4 linked regions of the Homo sapiens genome follow. The protein of the gene in region 1 purifies or fractionates together with the protein of each later gene. This does not show direct contact. Each region holds a gene or a part of one and is shown on either strand. Other genes may lie near its edges.

The links. The genes of interacting proteins can lie anywhere in the genome.
Region 2: the proteins of SLC7A2 (region 1) and ATP11B purify together in Homo sapiens (affinity purification with mass spectrometry; one large-scale study listed by BioGRID and IntAct). This does not show direct contact.
Region 3: the proteins of SLC7A2 (region 1) and VKORC1L1 purify together in Homo sapiens (affinity purification with mass spectrometry; one large-scale study listed by BioGRID and IntAct). This does not show direct contact.
Region 4: the proteins of SLC7A2 (region 1) and LMTK2 purify together in Homo sapiens (affinity purification with mass spectrometry; one large-scale study listed by BioGRID and IntAct). This does not show direct contact.

The regions. Positions count from the first base shown.
Region 1 is NC_000008.11:17,542,088-17,545,587, reverse strand, and holds part of SLC7A2 (cationic amino acid transporter 2), read right to left. Parts: intron 2,271-3,500; coding exon of another isoform or gene 2,249-2,270; coding exon 1,873-2,248; intron 1,138-1,872; coding exon 982-1,137; intron 1-981. UniProt on the Homo sapiens protein: Functions as a permease involved in the transport of the cationic amino acids (L-arginine, L-lysine, L-ornithine and L-homoarginine); the affinity for its substrates differs between isoforms created by alternative splicing.
Region 2 is NC_000003.12:182,800,004-182,803,503, forward strand, and holds part of ATP11B (phospholipid-transporting ATPase IF), read left to right. Parts: intron 1-3,500. UniProt on the Homo sapiens protein: Catalytic component of a P4-ATPase flippase complex which catalyzes the hydrolysis of ATP coupled to the transport of aminophospholipids, phosphatidylserines (PS) and phosphatidylethanolamines (PE), from the outer to the inner leaflet of intracellular membranes.
Region 3 is NC_000007.14:65,946,074-65,949,573, reverse strand, and holds part of VKORC1L1 (vitamin K epoxide reductase complex subunit 1-like protein 1), read right to left. Parts: intron 904-3,500; coding exon 794-903; intron 1-793. UniProt on the Homo sapiens protein: Involved in vitamin K metabolism. Can reduce inactive vitamin K 2,3-epoxide to active vitamin K, and may contribute to vitamin K-mediated protection against oxidative stress.
Region 4 is NC_000007.14:98,197,362-98,200,861, reverse strand, and holds part of LMTK2 (serine/threonine-protein kinase LMTK2 precursor), read right to left. Parts: intron 1-3,500. UniProt on the Homo sapiens protein: Phosphorylates PPP1C, phosphorylase b and CFTR.

The DNA.
Region 1 (3,500 bases):
CGTCTCTACTAAAAATACAAAAATCAGCCAGGTGCGGTGGCGCGCACCTGTAGTCCCAGCTACTCAGGAGGCTGAGGCAGAAGAATCGCTTGCACCCGGGAGACGGAGGTTGCAGTACCACTGTACTCCAGCCTGGGCGACAGAGTCAGACTCCATCTCAAAAAAAAAAAAAAAAAAAAAAAAAGAAAATGTTCAAATAGTTAAAACAAATATAAGGAGACAGAGCAGGGATTAGCTATGCCTATGAAATAAAATCAGCCACCACGTGAGTGCTTACTAGGAACCAAACGAGAAGGCTATAGGAGGCAGACACTGATGCCCTCATTTTATGTACGAGTGAGGGAAAGATTAAATAAATTGTTCTATGTTCTAAAGCAGAGTGAGTGGCACAGCAGGATTGAAATGTGGTTATTAGAATTCCTGTGCCTCCTAAAACCACTATGCTACAATACTGACAAAAACTGGAAAATCCTAGTACTAAGTATGTTTGCCTATATAATGTCGACATTACAAAATGACAGGTGATTAGAACTTGCTTCCTTTACAATCAAAGGCCTACATTATATAGATGAAGCCATGTCAGAAAAACAGAAATTCTTCTAGAAATTGCAAATATCCCTAGTTGTATCTAGCAAGATGAAATAATGCCAAGAAATTACACATTCTTCCTTACTGAAACCACCGCTATTCCTGCAAACCTGCAATTAACGATTTAAAAAATCAATGTCCTCATCCTATTATTTAGTGTGTACCAGGTGCCATTTACTCAGAAGTGCTATTTTTACCATTGCACACAATTTAGACTTAGGTTAAAATGTGATTCCAGCCAGTGATAAACCCCACAGATGTCTAACAGTGACATAAATGTGTAAATATACTAATCTCATCTTGGGAACTCAGGCCCCAAATTCAGAAGTAACCTATTTTCCTGAGACAAATAGTGTGGCTCATTCTGCAGAGACTCATAACTGGTTTTCTTACCTGCTAGAAGTAATATAAGGCACACAGCAAAAAAATCGGGATATTCTGCAAGACCAGTGTAATTCATTCTGAAGTATGTCCTCAAAAACTGACCAATCTGTTTGCTAAGAAGTTCATCAAAGGTGCCACTCCAGGCTCTTGCAACACTTGATGTACCTTCCCAAAACAGAACAGAGAATACGAAGTCACTGGGGGCAAATTAAAGTAGCATCATTTGCTACTCTATTATAGGATAAACATGAGTTCACAAAAGATTGAAAATTTTAATCACATATACAGTATCTGGATATTTATAATCATACAGTAGTCATCAAATGTTCAAATCCATAACTCTGGAATCAGGTAACTTTATTTGCAATAAAGAATTATAACTTAAAAAGTTTGCAAGCCCACTAAAAGGCATAGTCAGAGATGAAGCAAAAATCACAGAATTTTGTGGCCGGGTGCCGTGGCTCACACCTGCAATCCCAGCACTTTGGGAGGCCGAGGTGAGTGGATCACCTGAGGTCAGGAGTTCGAGACCAGCTTGGTCAACATGGTGAAACCCCGTCTTTACTAAAAATGCAAAAAATTAGCCAGGCATGGTGGCAGGTGCCTGTAATCCCAGCTACTCAGGAGGCTGAAGCAGGAGAATCGCTTGAAGCCAGGAGGCAGAGGTTGCAGCGAGCTGAGATCACGCCACTGCACTTCAAGCCTGGGCGACAGAGTGAGACTGTCTTAAAAAAAACCCACAGAATTTTGTAATTAGAAGGAGACATTTTCGAGATGACAAAAATGAGACACACAGACATCAAGTGATGTACCCAACACCTACAACTGAACCTAAGGGCTGTGACTCAGGGCTGCGATTTCTTCCATTCCACACAAGTTAGATTTCTTTTTGAAACATACCTATCACATACGATAAAATGAGATTCCAGCCAGTGATGAAGGCCCACAGCTCTCCGACAGTCACGTAGGTGTACAAATATGCAGACCCCGTCTTGGGAACACGGGCCCCAAATTCGGCATAGCAGAGGCCAGCCATCACTGAAGCCAGGGCAGCAATGAGGAAGGACACCACGATGCTGGGGCCCGAGTCTGCCTTGGCCACCTCCCCAGCGAGGACATAAACCCCGGCCCCAAGGGTGCTTCCAACGCCCAGGGCAATGAGGTCCATGGTGGATAAGCAGCGGCATAATTTGGTGTCTTCTAGACTGTCCAGGGTCACGATTTTTCTCCGGATCAGACATCGGGCAAAGGTCAGCGCGGCTCTGCAAGGAATCATTCTGACGTCTGACGAAGGCGACCTGAGCAGAAGGGAGGAGGTTAGAAGCTGATCTGGAATTGTCATCCCTCCCTTTGGTAACCTAGCTTCCAGGCACAATTAGAGTATGTGTGTGTGTGTGTTTGTGTGTGTGTGTGTGTGTGTGTGTGTTTCACTTGTTAGAAGAGATGCAGTGACCCAGAGCAGTCAGAAGGAAGGTTTAATAACCAGAGCCTCGAATTTCCTGTAGTTCAATTTCCTGTAGCATACACGTCCCCTTATAAGAGACTGCAATAAATGGCTTATGTGGCAAGCAAAGGAATATAGCAGCCTTGGGTGATTAAAAAGATTTGCCATTCTTGTTTGCATATTATAATTTTGTGTTTCTGTTTTTGTTTGGAAACAGGATCTCACTCTGTCGCCCAGGCTGGAGGGCAGTGGCACAATCTTGGCTCACTGCAGCCTCAACCTCCTGGGCTCAAACAATCCTCCCACCTCAGCCTCCGGAGTAGCTCAACCTCGGGGTTACAGGTGTGAGCCACCATGTCCAAGCTAAAAATTTCCTAAGGATATGTTGATAGAAATATATTTCAAGAGATGGCTAATTTCATTCTCACTACAAGGAAAGGAGTGAATTGCCTCATCTTTTGGGTTCTGTCTCTCTTTACTTCAACCATCCATTTAACTCAGGTTCTTTTTCTTTTTTTTTTGAGACAGGGTCTCACTCTGTCACCCAGGCTGCAGCACAGTGGCGTGATCATAGCTCACTGAAGCCTCAACTTCCTGGGCTCAATCAATCCTCTCGCCTTAGTCTACTGAGTAGCTGGGACCACAGGCATGTGCCACCACGCTCGGGTAACTTCTTTATTTTTCGTAGAGACAGGGTCTCACTATGTTGCCCATGCTGGTCTTGAATTCATGGGCTCACGCAGTCCTACCTCCTTGGCCTCCCAAAGTGCTGGGATTACACGCATGAACCACCATGCCTGGCCCAGATTTTTCAGGCCTTACTAAATACCAGGAATTGTGCTGGGAATATGTGTAGAATGATCTCTTACATAGATGGGGTCTCTAGCCTTACAGGACTTAGCTATCATCTAAAAGCACGTAAAAACTTAATCATTACGTATTCTACAGCTTTATCAAGCATGTGTGAGCTTCTCTGTTTTCATTTTAAACAATGAATGTGAAGCAGATGTGAACTTTTTAGAATTTTTAAAAAATCACCTCTCAAGGCCTGCTGAAATCTAAAAGTGCTATTCAACTATGCTTT
Region 2 (3,500 bases), on another chromosome or scaffold:
GGAGACTGAGGCAGGAGTATTGCTTGAACACAGGAGTTCAAGGCGGCAGTGAGCTATGATTGTGCCAGTACATTCCAGCCTGGATGACAGAGTAAGACCCTGTCTCTAAAAAATAAAAATTAAAAAAAAGAAAGAAACAAAAACATTCTTGATTGGATATTTATATGGGAAATACTATGAGACTTATTTTTAAGCCAATACTTCAAGTTAGAAATTATATATATAATTTTTTTTTTGAGATAAGGCCTCACTTTGTCTCCCAGGCTGTACTGCAGTGATGTGATCACAGCTCACTGCAACCCCAAACTCCTGGGCTCAAATGATCCTCCTGCCTCAGCCTCCTGAGTAGCTAAGACTTCAGGCATTTGCCACCACACCCAGCTAATTAAAAAAAAAAAAAAATTGTAGAGGTGGGGGTCTCACTATGTTTCCCAGGCTGGTCTCAGACTCCTGGACTCAAGCGATCCTCCTGTCTCAGCCTCCCAAAGTGCTGAGATTACAGGTGTGAGCCACTGTGCCCAGACGATGTTTGTATTTAATTTTTTTGCATATATGGTTATAATGCATTCAGTAAACATTCACCTGTATTGTGAATGACATGCATTGAATTTCTGTTACTTCTCAGCACTTGGGAATGGCTCTGAGGGAACTGTTTGACTCTTGGGTGTGCTTAGGAGAAAACTAGAACACAAATTTTTTTGCTGACTGGCTCACTTAAAATTGTACAATTTTTAATTTTCGTATTTTCTTATCCTATACATGGTATTGGCAAATTCTTTTGATTTTTTTTTTTTTTTAAGACAGTCTCGCTTTGTCACCCAGGCTAGAGTGCAGTGGCGCGATCTCCGCTCACTGCAACCTCCGCCCCCCACCCCCCCCAGCCCCGCCCAGATTCAGGTGATTCTCCTGCCTCAGCCTCCTGAGTAGCTGGGATTACAGGCACGTCCCACCATGCCCAACGGATTTTTTCGTATTGTTAGTAGAGACAGGGTTTCGCCATGTTGGCCAGGCCAGTCTCGAACCCTGGACCTCAGATGATCAATCCACTTCGGCCTCCCAGAGTGCTGGGATTACAGGTGTGACCCATCCCACCAGGCCTTCCTTTGAAATTTTTAGCATGTAGTTTATCCTCCTTAACATTAAGTTATGGCTTATGCAGATAATCATACTTGTTTCTCTTTAAAACTATTAGATTGTCCAAAATTTAGATGAAATACCAAATTAAGGATATTAATTAGTTAAGCTGTGTCTGTCTCCACATTTTAATTGGAAGTGAAGTTCCCCCTCAGGAAAGGAGGAAGAATAGGATGATATGCATAGGTATCAATCATTCATTCATTCACGTACATTTTGGAAAAGTTAGGAACAGAAACAGATGTTGTATATATGTAGCTTATTCTTACTGTGTGAAGCCGGTAAAGCTGGTACAGGTTATTTTTATTCTTTCTTTAAGCATTATGTTATAGAAAATTTCAATCACCTGCAAAAGTAGAGATAATGGTATAATGAGCCCCTTTATGGTATAAAGTTGGGCAAATGGTATAATTTATCCTTTACCCAACTTTTACAGTTATCGGCACATGACCAATCTTGTTTTATCTATTCCCCCCACCCACTATCCTCACTCCCTTTAGTGATTTTGAAGCAAATCCCAGACATTATATAATTTTACCCATAAATATTTCTGTATTTATCTCCAAAATCGCTTCTTCCTTTCCTTCCATTCTCAAATTCTTATTTTTACAAGTGTAGAAATTTTATTTTATGTCAGTTACATCAGTGATTATTAATATAAGTTAATGTAAAACTCTCCCCTTAACTCTTGATTTAATTCAGTTATATTAATAATAAAAGGTACATGCATAATATGTATTGCTAATAAATTTACTAAGAATCTGTCAAATTCTAAGCAGGAGATGTAGTTCTTTAAAAGTCAACTGCTCTTTTTCTATGGATACCTCTGTGGGGAGAAGAAATCAAAGAAAGACACATGAATCAAAAAATGCTTTGCTTCAAAACATCATGTTGTGCACCATAAATATACAGAATTTTTGTCAATTTTTTAAAAAATGCATTTTAAAAAGTGTTTTACTTATAACATGAATACATCTAAGTGTTTGGGGAGCAAATCGTATCTCCCTTTTTGTTGTTGCTAAAAATGATATATCCAGAACCATTTCTCTCGTCTTTCTCTGCCACCACCCTCAACTAAACTACTGCTACCTCTTACCTAGATTATTGCAAAAGCTTCCTAGTTCATCTCATTGTTTCTCCCCTTCTGTCCTTGCAGTCTGTTTTCAATATACCCACCAGAGTGATCTTATTAAACAGGTTAGATCATATAATTCCTCTGCCTAAGATTTTCCAAGTGCTTGCTCTTTTGTTCAGAGTAAAAGCCAAAGTCTCTGCTTGATCTGTATGCCAACCCCTACACTTCTTCCAATCCATTTCTCATCCTCCATCACTATTCTCTCACTCTTTATTCACACTAGCCTTATTGCAATTCAGAAGTCCCAGGCATACTTCAGTTTTAGGAGCTTTGTCCTGACTGTTACTACCTCTACCTGGAATGTTCTTCCTGCAGACATCTGCTGGCTCCTTCGCTCCTTTCAAGTCTTTATTCAAATATTGCGTTATTCATGAGTGAAGCTTTTTCCAGCCATTCAGTATAATGTTCTGACCCTCCCCATTACTTCCCTGTTGCCTTTCCTTGCTTGATTTCTCAGCACTTAATGCTATTTAACCTACTCCAAAACTTGCTAGTCTCATTTATCTCAGGAAGGAAGGGATTTTGTCTGCTTTAGTTTTGTTCTCCATTTAACAAAAGCCATTTCTCAACTCTGCATCCCCTTTTAGGTGACACCATTTCTTTCTCATGTATTGATGAATTGAGTCATTTTCTGTAAGTGAATTAGTTTTCTGTGATAGCATATTTGTTGCTAGGCTTTGGAACTACCAAAATGAAGTAATCCCTGCCCCAGCCAATCTTATGGGGGGTTCTTTTTTTCTAATGTATATTCGGATTGTTGCCAATTTTTTCCTGTTACAAAAAGTGTTACAATGACTATTATTGTTTATTTATTTATTTATTTTGAAGTTAAATACCCAGAAGTGGAATTGCTGGGTCATGGGTCACGTACATTATGACTGTTACTAAATATTGCCAAAGTATTTTCTAAAACAGAGTTCTCCTTTCCCTACATCTTGCTCAACACTTTGTACTGTCAGACTTGAAAAAACGTACCAGTCTGATGGGTGTGAAATAGTGTCTCATTTTGTTCTAATTTGCATTTTCTTGATTGCTGGTGAGATGCAGGTATCCTCAATTTCATTCACATGAATAGATTGCCCGTTTTCCATTGGGTAGTTTGGCCTTTCCTAATTCTTGCTATAGCCTGGATGCCAATTCTTTGTTGTATATGTTGTAAATATCTTCTAGTCTGTTCCGTGTATTTAATTTAGTTTATGGTATCTTTTTTTATACAGAAAGTTTAAATTTA
Region 3 (3,500 bases), on another chromosome or scaffold:
CCTTCTCGGCCTCCCAAAGTCCTAGGATTACAGGTGTGAGCCACTGCACCTGGCCCCAAGTTATTATTATTATTATTATTTATTTCTTTTTTGTGAGACGGAGTTTCGCTCTTGTTGCCCAGGCTGGAGTGCAATGGCGCGATCTCAGCTCACTACAACCTCCGTCTCCCGGGTTCAAGTGACTCTCCAGCCTCAGCCTCATGAGTAGCTGGGATTACAGGCATGCACCACCTCGCCCAGCTAATTTTGTATTTTTAGTAGAGACAGGGTTTCTTTATGTTGGCCAGGCTGGTCTCGAACTCCCAACCTCAGATGATCTGCCTATCTTGGCCTCCCTAAGTGCTGGGATTACAGGTGTGCACCACCGCACCCAGCCCAAAAATTATTTTTAAAAGCAGAAGACTGTGGAAATAGTGGATATGTAAAGGTAATGGGATTATGAATATGGTTTCTTGTTAATGTCCCCTTAATATATGATATTTTTCAAGGCCACTGAGTCTATAAAATAAGGAAAAACGTTAACAGGGAAGATGGGAGTGATAATTTCCTGGAATGGGACTGGTTTTTCTGGACATCATGAGATACTGCTCTCCATGATTAAACAGCAATTGACATAAATTCAACAATAATATAATAAAAATCTCAGTGAATCAAGTTTTCATAACACAAAAATGTTGTACACGCTAGTGGTTCTATAAATAACACATGCTTTAACATCAAGACACTTCAGGGCAAAGACACAAAGTACTAAACGGAATATAACAAACTTATTTTTGTATTGATAAATACTTACCAAGTAATAACTGTAGTATATAAAATATAAGTCCAAAGACACTGTTTGGCTGGTTTAATACACCATCCTTTCCAAAAATGGAACCCAAAAGACCAAATCCTCGACCCCATCTGTAAAATAAGGAAAACCAGTAACCCTATATTTGAATTTCCCTATTTTAAAAAATGTATCATTATTTGAGAACGTTATCCAATTCTAAAATCAACTAAGTTGTGAAATGTCTTAAATGTCCTGTGTTGAGAGAGTGATTTGCCCCAAAGAGAGGGAGGCCAGTCACTAGATTTCTGATTAGAAATAATCATCTAAAATGAACATATCTAAAGGTGCCAGTATACCCATCTGAATCTCTCAGTTGCCAATTTCTATATATTCTCTTCTCCAGAAGGTAGGGCAAAGTATTCGTTTTCCAATGGCATTAGTATTTGCAGAAGGAGACTTCTCTATGCAGAAGGAGACAGTTGTCCACTGTCTCTTAACAGTGGACTACTGACATTTTGGGCTAGATAATTCTTTGTGCTGTGGGGTGTTCTGTGCATTACATAACTAACAGTACCCCAGAGCTCCCCCAACTAGATGCTGCCAGTACTCCTCCATCCCAGGTGTGACTACCAAAAATGCAGTCACAGCCATTGCCAAACATCCGCTGGGACACGACTGCCCCCAGTTGAAAACCATAGAATGTAAGTTGTGCTATTTATTCACTCAAAGAATATAGATTGAAAAGTTGTTTCTTCACAAATTTCACCAGGATATGCATTAAGAAATATACTGGGAATGTATTTTTTAAATGTAGGGCCGGGCCCGTGGATCACACCTATAATCCCACCACCTTGGGAGGCCGAGGCGAGCAGATCACAAGGTCAAGAGTTCGAGACCAGGCTGGCCAGCATGGTGAAACCCGTCTCTACTCAAAATACAAAAAATTAGCCGGACATGGTGGTGTGCACCTGTAATCCCAGCTAGTTGGGAGACTAAGGCAGGAGAATCACTTGAACCCTGGAAGCAGAGGTTGCAGTGGGCCGAGACTGCACCACTGCACTCCAGCCTGGGCAACAAGAGCAAAACTCCATTTCAAAAAAAAAAAATGCAGGATAATATCAGAAACTATAGGTCTTTCCTGGAATCCTATCTCAGATGTAAAAAACTGGATACATTATATGCCCTATCAGTTTTTATTTGCAATTTAACTTTAAATCTTGCATTTGACTTAACATTTTTAAAACCTGATTTTTTTTAAATTGTTAACTTATTTGATAAAACTTGATACAAATATCAAACATTCATTTTGAATAAAAAACCTTTAAAGATAATGTTAACTCTGGATTGAACGAGAGTGCTTCTTAAATACTAAAAAAAAAAAAAAAAACCAGTTATGGTGTTAAGTCAGTAGAGAATCAGTCTAAACAAAATCTAAACTTTGGTTCTGAAGACAAACTGCCCCAAAGCAAGGATAAATAAGTAATTCTTCACAGGCCACAATAGTTTAATAGCACTTGATGCCCAAGATATAGAATGAAACCCCTGTATAACGATGATGTTGGGAGAGAAAAATCACCCCGATTTTACAAACAAGTGAAAGCCATGAAGATTTTTATTGTAGAATTATGCAATCCTTTTTGTTTGTTTTGTTTTGTTTTGTTTTTTTGAGACAGGATGTTCCTCTGTTGCCCAGGCTACAGTGCAGTTGCAATCATGACTCACTGCAGCCTTGACCTCCGAGGTTCAAGTGATTCTCCTGCCTCAGCCTCCCGAAGTAGCTGAGACTACCACACCCAGCTATATATATATATTTTTTTTTTGGTATTTTTTTATAGAGTTGCAGCTTTGCCATGTGCCAAGGCTGGTCTTGAAGTACTGGACTCAAGCAATCCTCCCACCTTGGCCTCCCAAAGTGCTGGGATTACAGGCTGAGCTATGACACCCAGCCTTCAGTTATACATTTCAAAGAACATAAAATAATTTCCATTATATTCATTTATTCTTTCACTCATCTAAATACTTATTGAGCATGTACTGTGTGCACTGACGCTACGTGCCGGGGATCCAGAAGTGAACGAGCCAGACGAGGTGCTGCCCTTGTGGACCTTAAATTCTATTTAGGGAAGAGAAATAATAAACAGGTAAACAAATGCCAGATTACCTGCAGCAATGGACACACCTTGTAACAGATACACAGGAAAATTAGAAGGGGAAACTCTAGATCAGTGCTTCTGAAATTTTTAAAGCACAATCACTCTGGGGTCTGGTTAAAATGTAGCTGTTCCTTCAGTGGGTCTGTGGTGGGGCCTAAGACTCTGCATTTCCAGAGAAAACACAACACAAAATGAAATGCTTGCAGGCAACACTGACGCTTCTGGTCTGAAGCCCACACTTGGAGATCCATAGCTGTGGGCAGAGAAGGGGTGCAGCAAGCTCCTCTAGCTTGATGGTCGGGAAGGACCTTTTCCAGGAATGAAGTTTTGAATGAGATCCTGAGTGATGGTAAGCAATCGGTCTCATGAGCAATGGCAAGTCAAAGGCCTTGAGGTAGGAATGAGCTGTGGGTGTGCCAAGGAAGGCCACTGAGGCTGGGGCATGGTGATTGAGGAGAGTGACAGGAGAACTGGGAGCGAGTCCAATCATTTACATTATTTAGGGCCTTGTGTGTAGGCCATGCCGAAGAGTTTGAATTTTATTCTAATTGCTATGAAAGACGTTTAGTAGCTTT
Region 4 (3,500 bases), on another chromosome or scaffold:
CACAAATAAGAAATAACAGTATAACAACAACAACAACAACAACAAAATAAATAATACAGTATAACAACTATTTTCATAGCATTTACAGTGTATGAGGCATTATAAGTAATCTAGAGATGACTGAAAGTCTGCAGGAGGATGTGTGTAGGTTATATGCAAATATGATGCCATTTCATATAAAGCACTTGGGCAGCCTCTAATTATGGTATCCAAATTATGGAACCACCACTTCTTGGAAACCAAGGGACAACTCCAGAAACGATCTGAACAGAGATCAGTGACAAGACCACCCGTGCATAACCACACCTGTGCATACTAAGTCCTGTGGTTAGCCTTGCGGAACCCACATATACAAAAAGTCAGCCCTCCGTATCTATACACAGGTTCTACATCCCGAGAATACTGTGCTTTCGATCTGTTTTGGGTTGAAAAGAAGCCATGTTATAAGTACACTCACACAGTTCAAACCCATGTTGCTCCAGGGCCAACTGTATAATACTATTCATTTCCTCTTGAGTTTCTTAGAATGTGTTTGATGACAGAAAGTCAAATGTGTTGCACTGTCTGAGGAGTTATCAGTGTACATGTATGCAACATAGAAGAGCATGTCAAGAAGGGGACGGAGGGCAAAAGGCCTAAGTGACAGTAGGGTTTCCACATTCCATCTGAAATATGCAAATACAGATTCTAAGTAGATTGTGAGAAGTTTAATACATACATTGTAACCCCCAGAACAACCACTACAAAAACTACGCAAAGAGAACAGTGTAAAAAAAAAGAAAAAGAAAAATGTAATACTAAAAATGTTCAATTTATTAAAAAGAGGAAGAATAGAAATAAAAATAGAACAAATAAAATGGTATACGTAAATCCAAAATATCAATAATTTTATTAAAGGTAAATGATCTAAACATACCATTAAAAGGCAGATTTTTCAGAACAGAGTTTTAAAAACCCCATCTAACTATAAGATCTGCAAGAAACTCATGTCAAATATAATGATACAGGTAGATTAAAAGTAAAAGGATGCAAAAGATACACCACGCAAACATTAACCAAAACAACGTGGCCAGGAGCGGTGGCTCACGCCTGTAATCCCAACACTTTCGAAGACCGAGGCGGGCGGATTGCTTGAGCTCAGGAGTTCGAGACCAGCCTGGCCAACATGGTGAAACCCCATCTCTACAAAAAATACAAAAATTAGCTGTGTGTGGTGGTGTGCACCCGTAGTCCCAGTTACTTGTGGGGCTGAGGCAGGAGGACTGCTTGAGCCCAGGAGCTCAAGGCTGCAGTGAGCCAAAATCATACCACTGCACTCCAGCCTGGGTGACAAAGTGAGACTGTCTCCGAAAAAAGAAAGAAAGCTGGAGCAGCTCTATGAATATAAGGCAAAGGAATACAGAAGGACATTACGAAAGGATAAAAAGGTCAATTCAGCAAGAAGACATCATCATCCTCAATGTATATGCATCAACAGAGCTGCAAAATACAGGAAGCGAAAATAAACAGAAATGAAAAGAGAAATAGACAAATCTAAAAATCACAGCTGGAGACTTCAACAACCTCTCTCTGAGTAATAGAACAAGTATGCAGAAAAATCGGCAATGACAGAGAAGAACTAATACCATCAACAAATTAAATCTGACATTTATAGAACGATCCACCCACCAAAACCAAAATACACACTCTTTCAGGTATACATGGAATAATTCACCAAGAAAGACCATATCCTGGCTCTAAGATAAACCTTAACAAATTTAAAAGCATTGAAACCATATTAAATATGTTCTCTGCCCATAATGGAATTAGACTAAAATTTAATAACAAAAAGATACAATAAAATCTCCAACTCTTGGAAATTAAACAATATACTTATTAAACTATATTAACCAATTATTAGTAATTATTAATTATAACTAATATATTAAACTATACTTGTTAATCTATGCTCCCAAGAGGAAGTCTTACAAAAAACTTTTTGATCTGAATGAAAACGAAAACTCACACATTAAAATTTGCTGGGTGCAGCTAAAGTAGTACATAAAGGGAAATTTATAGCATTAAATTATTAGAAAAGAAGAGGCCAGGTGCAGTGGCTCACGTCTATAATCCCAGCACTTCGGGAAGCCAAGGCAGGCAGATTCACCTGAGCTCAGGAATTCGAGACCAGCCTGGGCAACATGACGAAACAAAAAATACAAAAATTAGCCAGGCACGGTGGTGGGCGCCTGTGGTCCCAGCTACTTCAGGAGGCTGAGGCAGGAGAATCCCTTGAGCCTGGGAGGTGGAGGCTGCAGTGAGCAGAGATCGCACTACTGCACTACTACAGCCTGGGCGACAGAGCGAGACCCAGTCTCAAAAAAAGAGAAAAGAGGCCAGGCGCGGTAGCTCAGGCCTGTAATCCCAGCACTCTGGGAGGCCGAGGTGGGCAGATCATGAGGTCAAGAGATTGAGACCATCCTGGCCAACATGGTGAAACCTCGTCTCTACTAAAAATACAAAAATTAGCCAAGCGCGGTGGCACACGCCTGTAATCCCAGCTATTGAGGAGGTGGAGGCAGGAGAATTGCTTGAACGCGGGAGGCGGAGGTTGCAGTGAGCCGATATCACGCCACTGCCCTCCAACCTGGCGACAGAGTGAGACGTCTCAAAAAAAAAAAAAAAGGAGAAAAGAAGTAAGGTCTCGAATTCTAAGCTTTTCTAGAAAAAGCAAAATAAATTCAAAGCAAGGAGAAGGAAGGAAATAATAAAGACAAAGCAGAAATCAACGAAAGAGAAAAGAAAAAAAAATCCATGAAAACAAAAGCAATTTTTTGGAAAGATCAACAAATCTACATAATCTCTTCCAAACACTATCAGAGAAGGAAATACTTCCCAACTCATTTTATGAGACCAGCATTAATTACTCTGATAACAAAACCAAAGACAGTGCCAGCAAACAAACAAAACCCAAACCAACCAAAAAAACCTAGGTGGAGCCCTGAATGTTTATTCCTCAAAGCTGGAGAGCAGGAGCCTCTCAGACAGGGTCTCACTCTGCCATCCCGGCTGCAGTGCAGTGACACAATCATAGCTCACTGCACTCTCAAACTCCTGGGTTTAAGCGATCCTCCTGCCTCAGCCTCCTGAGCAGGTGAGACTATAGGTGCGGGCCACCACAACTGGCCAATTTTTTAAAAATCGGTTCTTATTATGCTGCCTAGACCAGTCTCACCTCCTGGCCTTAAGCGATCCTCCTGCCTCAGCTTTCCAAAATGTTAGGATTATGGGAATGAGCTACTGTGCCCAGCCTTCAGTGCTTGTTTACAGTATGACGGATCAGGCTGGAGGGAACCCTGTCGCACTAATTGCAAGTAAGCATCATTACCCGCTACTTTTGTCTCAAGAACACTGTGCACTGAGGAAGGACATCGCAAGTGCTAAAAGTCGAATGCGATGCCAGGCTGCAGATTGTAAAGGTGCATGCAAGAGGTGGCAGGGCTCAGTGGTGAAAAGTTCTG